3 linked regions of the Homo sapiens genome follow. The protein of the gene in region 3 interacts with the protein of the main gene of each other region in a pairwise test. Each region holds a gene or a part of one and is shown on either strand. Other genes may lie near its edges.

What was found.
Region 1: the proteins of SIL1 (region 3) and SGTB interact in binary tests that used the Homo sapiens proteins (3 or more experiments, as listed by UniProt).
Region 2: the proteins of SIL1 (region 3) and SMAD9 interact in a two-hybrid assay, tested with the Homo sapiens proteins (one large-scale study listed by BioGRID and IntAct).

Annotation. Positions count from the first base shown.
Region 1 is NC_000005.10:65,673,521-65,677,172, reverse strand, and holds part of SGTB (small glutamine-rich tetratricopeptide repeat-containing protein beta), read left to right. Parts: intron 1-3,652. UniProt on the Homo sapiens protein: Co-chaperone that binds directly to HSC70 and HSP70 and regulates their ATPase activity.
Region 2 is NC_000013.11:36,878,613-36,882,264, reverse strand, and holds part of SMAD9 (mothers against decapentaplegic homolog 9), read left to right. Parts: intron 1-1,487; exon of another isoform or gene 1,488-1,976; intron 1,977-2,389; 5' UTR 2,390-2,575; coding exon 2,576-2,987; intron 2,988-3,652. UniProt on the Homo sapiens protein: Transcriptional modulator activated by BMP (bone morphogenetic proteins) type 1 receptor kinase. SMAD9 is a receptor-regulated SMAD (R-SMAD).
Region 3 is NC_000005.10:139,188,351-139,192,002, reverse strand, and holds part of SIL1 (nucleotide exchange factor SIL1 precursor), read left to right. Parts: intron 1-3,652.

The sequences.
Region 1 (3,652 bases), about 74 Mb from region 3:
CTTTGATGGTTGTTTGTATTTCTGTGGGGTCAGTGGTAATATCATTTTTGATTGTGTTTGTTTGAATCTTCTCTCTTTTTTCTTCATTAGTATAGCTAGCGGTCTATTTTATTAATTTTATCAAAAAACTAGCTCCTGTATTCATTTTTTTTTTTTTTGAAGGGTTTTCTGTGTCTCTATCTCCTTCAGTTCAGCTCTGATCTTGGTTATTTCTTGTCTTCTGCTAGCTTCGGGGTTTGTTTGCTCTTGTTTCTCTAGTTCTTTTATTTGTGATATTAGGTTGTCAACTGGAGATCTTTCTAGCTTTTTGATTTGGGCATTTAGTGCTATAAATTTCTTTCTTAACAAGAATGAAATTTTAGCTGTGTCTGAGATTCTGGTATGTTGTATCTTTGTTCTCATTCAAAGAAGTTCATTCTTCTCATTCAAGAAGTTCTGCCTTAATTTTATTATTTACCCAAAAGTCATTCAGGAGCAGGTTGTTCAATTTCCATGTAGTTGTGTGGTTTTGAGTGAATTGAGTGCCATGTGGTGATGAGAAGAACGTATATTCTGTTGTTTTTGGGTGGAGAGTTCTGTAGATATCAGGTCCACTTGATCCAGAGCTGAGGTCAGGTTTGAATATCTTTGTTAGTTTTCTGTCTTGATGATCTGTCTACTATTGTCAGCAGAGTGTTAAAGTCTCCCACTATTATTGTGTGGGAGTCTAGTCTCTTTGAAGCTCTCGAAGTACTTGCTTTATGAATCTGGGTGTTCCTGTATTGGGTGCATATATATTTAAGGTAGTTAGCTCTTCTTGTTGAATTGAACCCTTTACCATTATGTAATGCCCTTCTTTGTCTTTTTTTTTTCTCTTGAGACAGAGTCTTGCTCTGTCACCCAGGCTGGAGTACAGTGGCGCAATTTCAGCTCACTGCAACCTCTGCTTCCTTCTTTGTCTTTTTTGATCTTCTTTGGTTTAGAGTCTGTTTTGTCAGAAACTAGGATTGCGACCACTGCTTTTTTCTGTTTTCCATTTGCTTGGTAAATTTTCCTTCATCCCTGTATTTTGAGCCTATGTGTGTCTTTGTATGTATAGTGGGTCTCTTGAATACAGCTCACTGATGGGTCTTGTTTTTTTATCTGGTTTGCCATTCTGTGTCTTTTAATTGGGGCATTTAGCCCATTTACATTTAAGGTTAGTATTGTTATGTGTAAATTTGATCCTGTCATCATGATGCTAGCTGGTTATTTTGCAAACTTATGTGGTTGCTTCACAGTGTCACTGGTCTGTATACTTCAGTGTGTTTTTGTAGTGGCTGGTAACAATTTTTCCTTTCCATATTTAGTGCTTCCTTCAGGAACTCTTGTAAGGCAGGTCTGGTAGTAATGAATTCCCTCGGCATTTGCTTGTCTGAAAAGGATCTTATTTCTCCTTTGCTTATGAAGCTTAGTTTGACCAGATATGAAATTCTGGGTTGGAAATTCTTTTAAGGATGTTGAATATGGGCCCCCAATCTCTTCTGGCTTATAGGGTTTCTGCTGAGAGATCTGCTGTTAGTCTGATGGGCTTCCCTTTGTAGGTGGCCTGGCCTTTCTCTCTGGCTGAATGGCAGGGTTCTTAACGTGTCCATGTACCTCCTGTGGGAAAGCCATGGATGGACTTTAGGAAGCTCATGGATTTTTCCAAAATTATATATAAAAATCTGTGTACATGTGTATGTGTGCATTTTTCCAGGGAGAGCATCATATTTTTCATGAGATTGGCACAGGAATCTGCCAATATATGAAAGGTTAAAAACTACTCTCTTACATAAAAGTGGTCCTAGGAAGATATCTAACATCTGCAGTTTGAGTATTTGGCCATTGTGGTTCCCTAGCTTGCCCCTCAGCATTGTCTGCCTTGTTTTCTATCTTTAGAGTTTATTTGATATAGATAGATAGATATAGATATAGATATCTCATGTGTTTGTCTTCTATTCTTACAAAACAACAAAATAATGTATGGGCCTTTTTGAGAACATACACGCTCTGGTCCAATATGTGGTAACTTTGATTTAGTGGGTTTAGGATGTTACCAGGGCATATCAAGCTCCTGGGGTGACTGTATACTTTGGATGAGAATTATTCTATCCATGATATGCCCTTGGAAGGCAGGAATCAGTTTTTATTCATCTTTTGTTTCCTTCAAAAAATGTGTCTTGCATCCATTAAATCTTCTGTTGAACTGAAATGCACAGATGACTCATTCCCAGTGAGATAAGTCTTTTTAGCAACTGGTAGTTTTTATTTTTCCCTTATCAAATTTCAGCCTTCTTACCATGCTAGCAAATACATGTTTTGTAGATCTTGTGACTTCATTTTTTTTTTTAAGAATGGTTACCCATTCTAGGACTCAGGTTATGGCATTGTAACAAGATGTGAAAAATGGAATTCTTTTAGTTTCAGATTTGGCTTAGGCTCCAAGCTGCTATGTACCAAAATAAGGTGTGAGACCACCATGTAGGAGTTGCAAAAGATGGGGATAAAAAACATGTTTTGTGACTCATAAAAAAGGCCAGGTTGATGGAAATTAAAACATGATTTTTGGAGAGAGCTATTAGAGTTTTAGGGCTCCCTATATGAAGGAATTAGGGAGGCTTGCTCTCATCTCAAGCCCTCACTGAGAAAGGGCTTTTCTGGTACAGAGACTTTCTACCTGATAGTTCAACTGGATAGCCAGTGGCAGAATTAGCTGTGTGGTTTGGGCAGTTACTGTACTGATGAGAGTGGAGCAGAGGTGTTTCCTGTGGACCAAGGTGAGCACACACAATTGTGAGAGAGTGTGTCTGAATATGTTCAAGAGGCTTTCCTGGAAGTGTGACAGGATCCCAACACAGAGAATCTCTGGAGGACTGCCAAGAACCTAAGACTGAAGGGAAAGTCATAGCATCCATCCAGAGGGTAAATTACCCTTTTCAAAGAATAGGTAAGAAATCTCCAGGGCCTAGGGAAAGGAGAAGTGTCTGAAGAACATGAGAAAGTACCCCATAAGAGAACCACAGTAGTTTTTGAATACCTTGCAAACTCAAAAAGCACCAATGCAAAACTAGTAAGATAATACCAGTCATCAAATAAGAACTTTGCTGCTCCTTTCACCTTTCCCTCCATTTAACCCTCAACCTGGAGGGCCACAACTCTTAATCAGCAAGCTGAGGGAAGAGGACTGGAAGTACTACAGGATAAAGAAGCACTATAGGCCTTGGTGTGCTGGCTCACACCTGTAATCCCAGCACTTTGGGAGGCTAAGATGGGCGGAGCACTTGAGGTCAGGAGTTCCAGACCAGCCTGGCCAACCTGGCGAAACCCCGTCTCTACTAAAAATACAAAAATTAGCTGGGCATGGTGGTGCATGCCTGTAATCCCAGCTACTTGGGTGGCTGAGGCAGGAGAATCACTTGACTCCGGGAGGCAGAGGTTGCAGTGAGCTGAGGTCATGCCATTGCACTCCAGCCTGGGTGACAGAGTGAAACTTCATCTCAAAAAAAAAAAATAGCCCTATAGGACAGCGGTCCCCAACCTTTTTGTAACAGGGACTGGTTTCATGGAAGACAGTTTTTCCATGGACCATACCGGGTGTAGGGGGTAGGGGCAGGATGGGGAGAGGAGCGTTAGATTCTCTTGAGGAGCACTC
Region 2 (3,652 bases), on a different chromosome or scaffold from region 3:
ACATACACACACACACACACACACACACACACACACAGCACATACCTGTGAATGAAAATTTTTCATGAAATGATTATTATTATACTTATTTTTCGTCAGCTGCTCTGCAATAAAGTCTGTTTTGTTTTGTTGTTTGTGCAAAAGCTGTTTTGTTCCAATTCATTGATTTCACATGCCATTGGTAAATAGAAACCCACAGTTTAAAAAAACGAACCAAACAAAACCTGGTTTAGGGAACTGTTGTTTCATGGAGCAAAAGTTTCTAAAAGGTGTATTTGGTTTAACTCGCTGAGTGTTTTTATAAAAAGCTTTTCTCTATGACTGACCTCAGCTTAAAGATCTATACCACAACTTACTAATAATGAGTTCCATGTAAAACTAAGCAGAATTCACAACTCTTTTGGGGTTCAGGTTATTCTATCATGAGACTTCTCCTTAAAGCTTCTAACCCTCTTCAGCCATTGCTTTAAGGCAGCCTGACTAGATTAAGTAAACAGAACTTGAACACAATGACTTAACTATACTTTATAAATTCATGATTGTTAAGCCACAAAATCAACCTTTCCAAATAAAACTGAGTGTAAGTCAAACTGCCAAGCGAAAAGAGCAGCTATGGAGCTCTCAACTCTCCCTTTTGTCATAGTTTATCTCTGTACAATGCCAGATAAAGCCCAGATGAGGAATAAAGTGATGTGACTATTGCTTTATACTTATTAAATCTCATCCGTTATTGTGGGACCATGCTGCCATCCTCCTCACCTGAGGTGCCCGATAATGATCACCCTAGCGGGGGGTTATAAGGCACCTTTGTTCGAAAGAAGTTTATAGAATTGGACTCAGAAAGGTACAGCTTGCCCTCCAGGGAAGCAAAGGAGAAAATTATATTTAATGCATATTAAACAAACAATTGTTGGAGATTATAAGCTACATCGATTCCAAGATCCCAAAATACTTGAGTCAGCTTACTCCAAAATGTTACCAGCCAGCCACTTTAAACATTAATGAGGTAGCTGGTTTCTAAAATCTGGAAGGAGGAGGAGGTTTTGTTTAAGCCAACTATTTCACAGAAGAGGAAATACAGTTCGACCTCAGGAAATTTAAATGAGACTGCTGAATAACTGGGAAAGAACATCTCCTGTGGATGACAGGGCAAAGAAGAATTAAGCTGATTTTAGGCCAAATAACAAATGTGACAGCTGTGCTTTTTTGTGTATGTATTGGTGTGTGATAGTGTATAATTTCTAGAAAAGCAGTTCTCATGCATTTGGGTCTTGAAAATTTCCACTTTTAAAAATTATTGAGAACTCCAAAGAACTCTTGCTTCTGTAGGCTGTATCTATCAATTTTTACCATTTTAAAAATTGAAACTAAGAAATTAAAAAAATATTGATTGAATCATTAAAAAAACTGTATTAACATAAAATATTTTTATTTAAAACATTGTTTTCAAAAAAGTTATTGAGAAGAGTATTATTGTTTTATATTACTGCAAATCTATTTAATACTTGGCTTAATAAATGGCACCTAGATTGTCATCTTTTCTCCATATACTCTATTGTGTTATGTTGTTTTGGTTGAAGTATGTGAAGCGAAGTTAGTTCACACAAATAAGTAATTGGAAAAGAGAGAACCTCATAGTCCCCTTAAAAGGATCTCAGGGGACTCCCAGGGATCCTTGGGGCACACTTTGAGAGCCACTGTCCTGAAAAGTAGTTTGGAAGACTATGTTAAGAATGGCTGTCCAGGAGTGGTGAGATTATTCACGATTCTTTTTTTCTTTTCTTTTCATTAGTATTTATTTTCTACAAGAAGATGGATTGCTTGTGCAAACTAAAAATGAGAAAGAAAGAACATACTCATGTTGAGGGCAGATTATGGAGGCCCTGGAAAAACCCAGGCAGAGGAGTTTACACTTGGGAGACCAAGGAGCCACTGTCATTTCTTAAATGGGAAAATGATAAGAGCTGTGTTTGGGAGTAAGTGAATTCGAATTGAAAGAGAGAAAGAGAGATGCTACTTCAGAGAAGTGGTGTGGTGAGTCAGACCTCAGGTGTTGGCAGAAATGGAGAGAAAGGACAAACTCCAAAGACTTTGAGGGCAGAATGACCTGAGACCTGGATATAGGAAATACAGGAGAGGGCAGAGTCAAAGACAACAGTTTTAAAATTAAAACATTTGAAGAATGTTTTTTCCCTTCTATCCAACTTTGGGGCCTGGTTCTGTTGCTCAGGCTGGAGTGCAGTGGCGCAGCCTTGACCTCCTGGGCTCGAGCCATTCACCCACTTGAGTAGCTGGGACTGTAGGTGTAGATTGCCTCTTTCTATCCAACTTCAACTTTTTCTGAATGTTACTCCGATTAAGCTAATTGAAGTCTTGTCGTGTTTTCCAGAGTTGGCCACCCTGTTCAAGGGCTTAGGAGAAAGTCAACACACTTCGCAACTTGAATTGGTCCCAGCTGCTCCCAGAAGAACGGGCGGGTTGGTCCCTATGCCACCCCTGGAGAGCTACTCGCCGCCCACTTTGCCGTGAAGGGCTGTGCGGTTCCCGTGCGCGCCGGAGCCTGCTGTGGCCTCTTATGCACTCCACCACCCCCATCAGCTCCCTCTTCTCCTTCACCAGCCCCGCAGTGAAGAGACTGCTAGGCTGGAAGCAAGGAGATGAAGAGGAAAAGTGGGCAGAGAAGGCAGTGGACTCTCTAGTGAAGAAGTTAAAGAAGAAGAAGGGAGCCATGGACGAGCTGGAGAGGGCTCTCAGCTGCCCGGGGCAGCCCAGCAAATGCGTCACGATTCCCCGCTCCCTGGACGGGCGGCTGCAGGTGTCCCACCGCAAGGGCCTGCCCCATGTGATTTACTGTCGCGTGTGGCGCTGGCCGGATCTGCAGTCCCACCACGAGCTGAAGCCGCTGGAGTGCTGTGAGTTCCCATTTGGCTCCAAGCAGAAAGAAGTGTGCATTAACCCTTACCACTACCGCCGGGTGGAGACTCCAGGTGGGTCGTCTTTACGACGTCAAGGTTTATTTTCAGAGTGAAGGTCGTGTGCCCCATTGATGGAGAATGATGGGGCACCAGCAGACAGGGACCTCTCCCAAAAGAGAGAGAGAGAAGAGAGGAGAGGGAGGTTCAGTTTTGAGGGACTCGTCCAAAATTTTGTTTCCCGGAATGAGGCAGCTGTCCAATCAAAGAAAGTTCCCATGAAAACGATATTCCTGCCTGGAATGCCACAGGAACACTCAATCCAAAGAGAATCGCAGTAAAACCCTGTTATAGCCAGTGTGAAGGAATGAAGATAAACTAGTCAGGAAAATCTAGAAAGAAGATATTTTCATTTGATTTCATTATGCTGGTAAGCTTTGTGTGATTTTGAAAATGAGGCAGATGGCTAATCGGAGAAAACTGCCATAAAAGTTTTATTTTGAGGTATCTGGGACAAGTCAACATAATCTTTTACCAGTTCTTGGGGTCCTGAAAGGTTTTAAAATGGCCTTGATAATGATGAGCTGTAAAAATTAAACATCCTCCTCCCCCCGCCCCAAACAACTGAACTGAACTGTACTAAACTGAACTAAGGCAGGGTTTTTGGCTGCTACTTTGTTCAAGTTCAGGTAAGTAGAAGATATCTCATGTCTAGGTCTGAAAACAGCCAATGAAAGAGT
Region 3 (3,652 bases):
CCCAGGTTCAAGTGATTCTTCTGCCTCAGCCTTCCGAGTAGCTGGGACTACAGGCGCCTGCCACCACGCCTGGCTAATTTTTGTATTTTTAGTAGAGATGGGATTTCACCATATTGGCCAGGCTGGTCTCAAACTCCTGGCCTCGAGATCTGCCGGCCTCGGCCTTCCAAAGTGCTGGGATTACAGGCGTGAGCCACTGTGCCTGGCCCTTTTTAAGAGGGTCTCACTCTGTTGCCCACGCTGGAGTATAGTGGTGTGATCATAGCTCATTGCAACCTCCAACTCCTGGGCTCAAGTGATCCTCCCACCTCAGCCTCCCAAGTAGCTAGGACCATGGGTGTGCACCACCATGCCTGGCTAATTTAATTTTTTTTTTTTTTTTTAAAGAGACAGGGTCTTGCTTGCAACATTGCCCAGGCTGATCTTAAATTCCTGGCCTCAAGTGATGCCCTACCTTGGCCTTCTAGAGCACTGGGATTACAAGTGTGAGCCACCATGCCCAGCTATACCAGTGGGCTTTTAAATGGACATTTCTTTACCTCTGGGGATAGTCTCATTTTTGTGAGGCTCCCAAGGGGAAAGCAGCCATCTGACCAAACTAGAAAACTAGCAGGCTTCAGCCCAGTGGAATAACATAAAGTAGGACAATCGATACAGACAACATTGATTGGCCATGCTTTGAGTGCTGTGGATAGTGTGTATTGGAAGCTTAAGGGGCCAGCTCATAAGTAAGTTGTAAGTAAGTATTTAAGGATGCTTTTTTTTTTTTTTTTTTTTTTTTGAGACAGAGTCTCACTGTCACCCAGGTGTGAGTGTGATCTTGGCTCACTGCAACCTCTGCCTCCCAGGTTCAAGTGATTCTTGTGCCTCAGCCTCCTAAGCAGCTGGGATTACAGGTGCTTGCCACCATGGCCGGCTAATTTTTGTATTTGCAGTAGAGATGGGGTTTTACCATGTTGGCCAGGCTGGTCTTGAACTCCTGACATCAGGTAATCTGCTCACCCCGGTCTCCCAAAGTGCTGGGATTACAGGTGTGAGCCACTGTCTCTGGCCTAAGGTTGCTTCTTGTTTTTCCCCACACCCCATCTCATACTCATGGGGAGTTGGGTTTGACTGTATTCTTGAAGTTAAGTCTCCATCCTTGGACCCAGCTGCTAAAGTCTAAAATGATTGTGTTTTGGGCTGGAAGATATTATAGAGATCTTTATTTCCTTGCAAACATCAGGGCTGGCTGTTTGTGGTACTGTGGATGAGTGAAGAGTCAGGAGATACACTTCTAGTTCTGTTACTGCCCAATGCCTCCATTTTGCATTTGATAGGTTTTTATTTTTCTGACGACAAAAACTGAGCCCCAGAGAAGTGAAGTGGGCCACGTAATGGTAGGATCTTTTTTAGGCCACCCACATAATAGTGGGACTCTAGTGTTAGAGCTGGGACACAGGCTAGGGGTCTTACAAAGGGTGGCCATAGAAGTTGTTAGAATTGTTTAAAGCATTGTAAAGATGCAGGATGCTTTTGCAGTTAAAAGTCTCCTGGGAAGGAGGAGGCCCTGTCTCCACTTACTGCCTTGTACATGATCTTATACCCTCATGGTTGAAGATTTTTGCTGTCGTGCTGTTTTTCCTCCTACTCATGTCGAAATGTGTTTCTCTTGCTCTTACCTCAGAGGAAATGAATTTGAAGCCTTCCTCCGTGTTAGAAACAAATAGTGCTCAGGCCAGACTTGTGTGTTTCTGTAAAGAATGAGGCCAGATGTAACAGTGGACCTTATCTGGTGATCCAAGCAAACCTTCAAGACATCTCTAAGAGAAAGAGAGAAGGAATGAGTGTATTTCAGAGTGGTTTAAACACACTTTGGAGTCAGACTCACTTGTATTTACGTTCTGATATCTACTTACTAGTTGTCAGATTGTAAGTTACTTATTTTCTCTAAGCCTTAGTTTTATGATCTGTTGAATGGGAATAGTAATATGTATTTTTATAGCTATCTTAAGAATTCAGAGAATAGATATGGTGCTTCCTCTGGCACAATGTAAAACAGCAGTCCCCAACCTTTTTGGCACTAGGGACTAGTTTCATGGAAGACTATTTTTCCATGGACTGGGGGATGTGGGGGATGGTTTGGGGATGATTCAAGCACATTATATTTATTGTGTACTTTATTTCTGTTATTATTATTTTTGAGACAGAGTCTCACTCCATCACCCAGGCTGGAGTTCAGTGGCACAGTCTTGGCTCACTGCAACCTCTGCTTCCCAGGTTCAAGCAATTCTCCTGCCTCAGCTTCCTGAGTAGCTGAGATTACAGATGTGTACCACCACACCCGCTAATTTTTGTATTTTTAGTAGAGATGAGGTTTCACCATGTTGACCAGGCTGGTCTTGAACTCCTGACCTCAGGTGATCCACCCGCCTGGACCTCCCAAAATGCTGGGATTATGGGCATCATGCCCAACCTATTTCTATTATTATTACATTATAGTATGTAATGAAATATACAACTCACCATAATGTAGACTTAGTGGGAGCCCTGAGCTTGTTTTCCTGCAACTAGACGGTCCCATCTGGGGGTGATGGGAGACAGTGACAGATCATCAGGCATTAGATTCTCATAAGGAGTGTTCAACCTAGATCCCTTGCATGCACAGTTCACAATAGAGTTTGTGCTCCTATGAGAATCTAATGCTGCCACTGATCTGACAGGAGGCGGTGCTCAGGCGTTAATGCAAGCGTTGGGGAGCAGCTGTAAATACAGATGAAGCTTTGCTCACTCACTTGCTGCTCACCTCCTTGGATGGGTTTCTGATAGGCTACAGACCAGTATCGGGGGTTTGGGACCCCTGATGTAAATGCTCTGTGTTGTCATCATTATTGACAACAATAGTTTCCAGTTTCTGAGCCACGTCGTAGTTTCAGGATAGGTTATGCTGACCAAGCAAGTTTTATCTTAACCATCACCTCATTGTTGTCTTAGTTGGTTTGTATTACATATTATTTATACCAATAGTTATAGGTATTTCATGCTGAATAACTAAAAGTTGTGAGTAGCAAGGAACTTTGCTGCTTCTCTGCCATCTCCTTCCTTACTCAGCTTAGTGCTTATCTTTCTCAGGTTCTCTCTTGTCAGGTGCTCAAGCCAGCAGGCCTTGTTTCGGGGGCAGTGTCTGATGAGGGGATTTTATTGGGGTAGGGCTGGCTAGTCCAGAGCCTGCCTGGTCCCTCAGATAGTATGTTCTCCTTATCTCTTGCTTTCTGCTCTTCAGCCAGACATGAAGCAATTAGCTCATCAAGGGAATGTTGACTTTTGTCACTGCTTTCCTCTGATTTGTATGCTCATTTCTGGTCCTTGTGCAAAGTCACGGAGGCACAGTCACATACACTGACCCAGATTTTGTGCTCAAGTTGACTGTCTCTCTCTTTGAGATGTACAACTGGTTCCATGTAGCAAGGGAGTGAGGAAAAAGCCCCTGGAGCCAATCCCATTATTTTGATCTCAAGTTGAGTTTTTAAAAAAATCCAAGCACTATGACTATAGACCATGCCTCACTTCTCTGTATGAAACAAATAAGGTAAAAAAAACTCACTATTTGGAGGGAAGGCCAATCTGAATTGGTAAACAATAGGAATTAGTACATTCAAGAAAATGCCATTGT